Linked DNA regions of Homo sapiens: region 2 is linked to region 1. The links come from fine-mapping of genetic effects on gene expression. Tissue or cell type: whole blood. Region 1 holds a variant in brackets; the other region holds the start of a gene. Each region is shown on its reference strand, or each on the opposite one. Region 1 has its middle 5.7 kb from the start of BEND3. Region 2 holds the start of CCDC106 (coiled-coil domain containing 106).

What was found. PIP is the estimated chance that this variant, and not a neighbour inherited with it, causes the effect.
Region 2: CCDC106 starts here. The variant in region 1 is fine-mapped to the expression of CCDC106 in whole blood (TOPMed, PIP 0.97).

Annotation. Positions count from the first base shown.
Region 1 is chr6:107,119,776-107,122,680 of GRCh38, forward strand. No RefSeq gene overlaps it. Among named protein-coding and RNA genes, the nearest start is that of BEND3, 5.7 kb to the left of the region's middle. The variant C/T (reference allele first, on the strand shown) is at 1,452.
Region 2 is chr19:55,647,110-55,650,014 of GRCh38, forward strand. CCDC106 (coiled-coil domain containing 106) reads left to right here and starts at 1,103. Exons shown (of 5, transcript NM_001370470.1): 1 at 1,103-1,968; 2 at 2,096-2,200; 3 at 2,299-2,475. The coding sequence starts at 1,938. RefSeq lists silencers at 1,179-1,298, 1,329-1,458 and an enhancer at 2,519-2,568.

The DNA of each region.
Region 1 (2,905 bases):
TCCTAGCTACTCAGGAGGCTGAGAAGGGAGGATTGCTTGAGCCCAGGAGTTTGAGGCTGCAGTGAGCCATGATGGAATCCCGGCACTCCAGCCTGGACGACAGAGAAAGACCCTATCTCTGAGAAAAACAAAACAAAACAAAGACTCTAAATGATAGGATATATGTTAAGATTAGTCTTATTTGCGCTGGGTGTGGTGGCTCACAGCTGTAATCCCAGCACCTTGGGAGGCCGAGGTAGGCAGATCACCTGAGGTCGGGAGTTCGAGATGAGCCTGACCAACAAGGAGAAACCCCATCTATACTAAAAATACAAAATTAGCCAGGCGTGGTGGCGCATGCCTGTAATCCCAGCTACTCGGGAGGCTGAGGCAGGAGAATAGCCTGAACCCGGGAGACGGAGGTTGCGGTGACCTAAGATCGTGCCATTGCACTCCGGCCTGGGCAACAAGAGTGAAACTCCATCTCAAAAAAAAAAAAAAAAAAGGTCTACATAGACAAATATGTTCGTTGCAGGATCATTTGTGATAGCAAAGAAATCGAAGAGAACTTGGAAAATAGCTAAAAATACCTTCCATGACATACTATGTAAGCTTTTTTTTTTTTTTAAATACAGAGTTTCATTCTATCACCCAGTCCAGTGTGCAGTGGTATGATCATGGCTCATTGCAGCCTCAAACTCCAAGGCTCAAGCCATCTTCCCACCTCACCCTCTCAGGTAGCTGAGACTACAAGGCCAAATCACCAGGGCGGACTCATTTTTTTTTCTCTTTTTATAGAGACAGGGTCTTGCTGTGTTGCCCAGGCTGGTCTCAAACTCCTGGGCTCAAGTGATCCTCCTTGCCTTGGCCTCTCACAGTGTTGGGATTACAGGTGTGAGCCATCATGCATGGCCTGTAAACTAGAAAGAGGAAAGGGAGGTGTTCTTTTTTATGGATATGGAAGAATGTTGATGACATATTGTTGAGTAAAAGAAGAAAATGACAGATTTTTTTTTTTTGAGACGCAGTCTCGCTCTGTCGCCAGGCTGGAGTGCAGTGGCGCGATCTTGGCTCACTGCAACCTCCGCCTCCCGGGTTCAAGCGATTCTCCTGCCTCAACCTCCCAAGTAGCTGGGACTACAGGCACACACTACCAAACCCAGCTAATTTTTGTATTTTTAGTAGAGACGGGCTTTTACCATGTTGGCCAGGGTGGTCTCGATCTCTTGACCTCGTGATCTGCCCGCCTCGGCCTCCCAAAGTGCTGGGATTACAGGTCTGAGCCACCGTGCCTGGCCGACAGATTTATATATAATGTAATCTTATTTTTGTCAAGAAGAACATCACGTATGTATCTGGGTTGTGAATGGAAAAGGTCCGGGAGGCCAGGTGTGGTGGCTCAAGCCTGTAATCCCAGTACTTTGGGAGGCCAAGGCAGGGGGATCACTTGAGCTCAGGAGTTCTGGACCAGC[C/T]TGAGCAACATAGTGAGACCCTGTGTCAAAAAGAAAAAAAAAAATGTTCTGGGAAATACAGAGGTCATAGAGGTGACCGCGAGGTATATCGGATAGAGAGAAGAGAGGGACTTTTTCACGTTATACATGTGTGTGATGTTTGGTTGTTTTCCCCCATAATGAGTATCTACGTCTTTGTAGCCCTTTCCCCTCACACAGACTAAAAACAGTCATTACCATGGCCTAAAGAGCAGAAGTCACTCTAGAGTAGCTAAGTCATGCTCAGCTGGTGTAAGAGCCTAGACTTAAACACGTCACCAATCCCCCCCTTTCTCTACATAATTTTATGGCTGAAATAAAAGGAAGAGAAGAAATCCTGGTAAAAATGACCCCAAAGTAAATATGGCACTTGGTTACAGAATCCAAAGCCTCCTTTTTTCAAGTTGCTGAAGTGTCAACACGGTATTTTAAGAGGTCACTGTGAATATATGTAAGGATTTCCCTCTAGTCATTACACATGAGGGCCTGAGAAATAATAGGTGTCAACTGCCTGGTTCTACCGCTAAGGAAACTGGGGCAAAAAGAAAGGGTGGCTTGCTCAAGGCTATTGGGCTTTAGAATTATGGTTTTGGGTTCCACTTTCTAAATTATTACTACCAAACATCAAACAGGCAAAAAAAAAAAAAAAAAAAAAAAAAAAAGAAAGAAACCGTCAAGGAGTGAAATCTATAAGGTCTGTGCTTCACAGAATTGTATTCATTTAAATTATCAGGCCCTGCCCCCAACCTCACCCTTTAGTCCTTAGGCAGCTTAAGTCCCTTCCTCAAGAGGCCACATGTGTCCCAAGCCTGGGATGGAGGCCCTGTGCTGCACCCCCATGGCAGCTTGCTCTGTCCATGGAGACTCCTATGAACTGAGTTGGTTCCCCTCCAAATCCATATGTTGAAGTCCTAACCCCCAGTACACTTTGGAATGAGAATATTTGAAGATAAGGCCCTTAGCAGGTAACTGAGGTTATTTGAGGTCAAGGGTGGGGCCTTAATCTGATAGGGCTGGCATCCTTACAAGAAGGGGAAGAGACCAGCACGCTGGCTCATGCCTGTAATCCCAACACTTTGGGCAGCCGAAGCAGCGGGCGGATCACTTGAGGTCAGGAATTTGACACCAGCCTGGACAACATGGCAAAACCCCGTCTCTACTAACAGTACAAAAATTAGCTGGGCACGGTGGCAGGTGCCCGTAATCCCAACTACTTGGGAGGCTGAGGCAGGAGAATCACTTGAACCCGGGAGGTGGAGGTTGCAGTGAGCCGAGATTGCGCCACTGCACTCCAGATTGGGTGACAGAGAGAGAGACTTCGTCTCAAAAAAAGAAAGAAAAAAAAAAAGGCCGGGCGAGGTGGCTCACACCTATAATCCCAGCACTTTGGGAGGCGGAGGCAGGTGGATCACCTGAGGTCAGGAGTTCAAGACCAG
Region 2 (2,905 bases), not on the chromosome of region 1:
AGTGGGGAGGGGAGGATCATGGTCACAGCTTTGCAGGCGGTGCAGACATTTAGATTCTCCCTCCATCGGGTTAAGACCTTGCTCTTATAAGGGCTGGCCACAGTCCAGAGCTTGGATGCTTCTGGTGAACAGGAGAGGCAGGTGGAGCTGAGCCTGAAGCTTAATAAACATCTGCTTATTCATTCATTTTTCTTGCCTATTTTGTGCCAGGCACTGTGCTAGGCCTCATTTGCTCTTCCGACCTGTTTTTTTGGGAGGAAGAACAAATCTTCCGTTCATACTCCCCAGAGTGGGAAAGAGCCTCCCAGAGGCTGCCATCATACCCCACCATCTGACCTCAAATAATACCAGCAGCGCTCCTCTCTTCAGCCCTGACGATGGCCAGGTGCTGGGCTGAGCTTCTGTGTGTCGCATCACTGCATCCTCACAATAAATTTAGAAGGGCTTGTAATTTCCCCATTTTGCAGGTGAGTTAACAGGCTGGGGAGGAGCAGGAACAGTCAGGACTGGAATCTAGCTTTGCTCCAAAGCCAGCTCTTAATTACCAACATGGGGATGGGGGTGGCGTGTTCCTGGCCCTCATTTTCCGGGAGAGGGGTAACTCCCCCGATTTTGGCCCCCACATCCCTGAGAACCTTGGGGTCTGGCTGTAGGAGGTAGGGGAGCTCTGAGGGGTCCGCGCTGGCTAGTTCCTGAGAGAGCGTTAAAAGTAGATTCTCCTTTCGCTCCAACTTTCTCGGTGTCTCAAACACTCTCCTGCCTTCTGGGCCCATTGGGCACACCGCCACCCAATCCGGGGACCCCCGGAGACTCGCCAGCTCTCCAGGATGGGAATTTCGTGATGTTCCCTGCCTGAGCTTCGGGGAGGGCGGGGGAGTGCTGTAAGGGGCTATCGCGCAAGTGCAGACCCTCTGCTTCTGCCGCAAACGGCGGGCCTCACCTGGACCCGGGGACTCTTCAACGAGGGGCGCTAGCCTGGCCCGACTGGGCGAGTCCCCGCGTCCCTGCCCGTTCCGTCGCTCAGTTCCACGACACGCTCCCCTGCCGCCCCGCCTGTTCGCGGGTGGGTGGGCGCTTCCCTCGGCTCCCCGTGACACTTTGCAGACGCTCCCCGGCGCCGGGCATGGGCGCCGCCGCCGTCGGTCCCCGAGCCGGATTCCGCGAGCGGGTGGGTGAGCGCGGGGGGCCTCGGCCCCTCGGACCCCGGGCACCCGCGGGCGGGGGATGGTGGCCGCGTTTGCACCCCCGCCCTAGTGCATGTTCCCGCTGGAATCGTTCCACGACCGCTCCCCCTCCCACCCGCGGGACAAAGGGCGGGGGCGGGGGGGGCGCACCCCCACGCGTGACCTTTCCCCGTACTGCGCACGCGCCCAGCCCCCACCACCGGGGGACGGTCCGCCCGCCCACGCGAGTGCGGGGGAGGGGTGTGGGGGCCCCGAAGGTAGAGGAGGCAGCGCGCACGGGCTGGACCTCCTCCTACCCTGGGAAGTTGGGGCAGTTTCCCCCTGCACCTGCCTCTTCCTTAGGCCTGGCAGTGGCCCGCGATGAGAGAGGGTCCTTCCCCTTCAGGCTAGGTGTCCCTGGTCAGGCGACCCCTTGGGGCACCCAGCAATTTAGGGCTTCAGCTTCCTTTTCCTTCGATACCCAGGAGCCCACGTCCCCAGCTCACTTCTCCCCCAGGACCTAGGCGGCTGGGCCCCCTGCCCCTGACTCCAGGAGCCCAGGAGTTTGAAGCCCAGGCGCGTTTTGCCTCAGTCCTGGGGTCCAGGCTCCCTCCTCCCTCAGACCAGGGGTCCAGGCCAGAAGGTCCCTCCTGTCTCACTTCACCTCCCCCAGGATGGACCCTCCAGTCCATCTGCGTCTCTCCATTTGTGGCTGCCGTTTCTGTCCAGTGCCCCTGAGGCCCTCGGCTGCTGGGGTCCGTAGGAAGCCGCGCCATGAATGACCGGAGCAGTCGGAGGCGGACAAGTGAGGAAGCTGGGTCCCCTTCCCTACCCTGGGTCCCAGTGCGGTCGGCTCCAGGCTGCCGTGGTTGGGGGGTGGCCTGAGAGGCCCGGGGAATTCTCTGGGGTAACCCGGGGCCTCTCCTCTCCAGTGAAGGACGATGAGACCTTCGAGATCTCCATTCCCTTCGATGAGGCACCCCACCTAGACCCACAGATCTTTTACAGTCTGAGCCCCTCTCGGAGAAACTTCGAGGGTGAGCTGAGGGGGTGTGGAGGGACTGGAGTCAGCTGGGAAGCCAAGCCCTGAGTCCCAGGGTGTGACCTGGTCCCCCCACCCTCGCTGTGTCCCTAGAGCCTCCGGAGGCTGCGTCCTCCGCCCTGGCTCTGATGAACAGCGTCAAGACCCAGCTGCACATGGCTCTGGAGAGGAACTCCTGGCTGCAGAAGCGCATCGAGGACCTGGAGGAAGAGAGGGACTTCCTGCGGTGCCAGCTGGACAAATTCATCTCTTCTGCTCGGATGGAGGCAGGTGTGTGTGGGGTGCTCTGATCCACATGCCTCCCTGTCCCGCTACTGGGTACCCGCTCACCCAGACTCAAGGCTCCACTGTTTGGCTGGCTGGGTGGGACCTGCCATGTTGGCCCTATCTGCTAGTCCCCTGCCTGTTTTGGGCCCCCAGGCCCAGCTGCCTCCTCACTTGATTCCAGGGCCTCATCCCCATGAACTGTCTACTGGGGCCCGTCCTCCTGCCTTCTCCGTCAGCTCCCCAAATCCCATCAGCCTCCAGTGCCCTGCCATCTGCTTCCTTGGCCCATGGTGACTTCAGGGACCCTGGCACCTGAGAGCCCCTCTCTTCTGACTCCTAGGGGGACCTTCCTTCATCTCTTTGGCCAAGAGGCCCACCCTAGTTCTTTGGGTTTCCTCAGGGGGCCCCTGCTCCTCCTCCCGTCCCTGTCTTC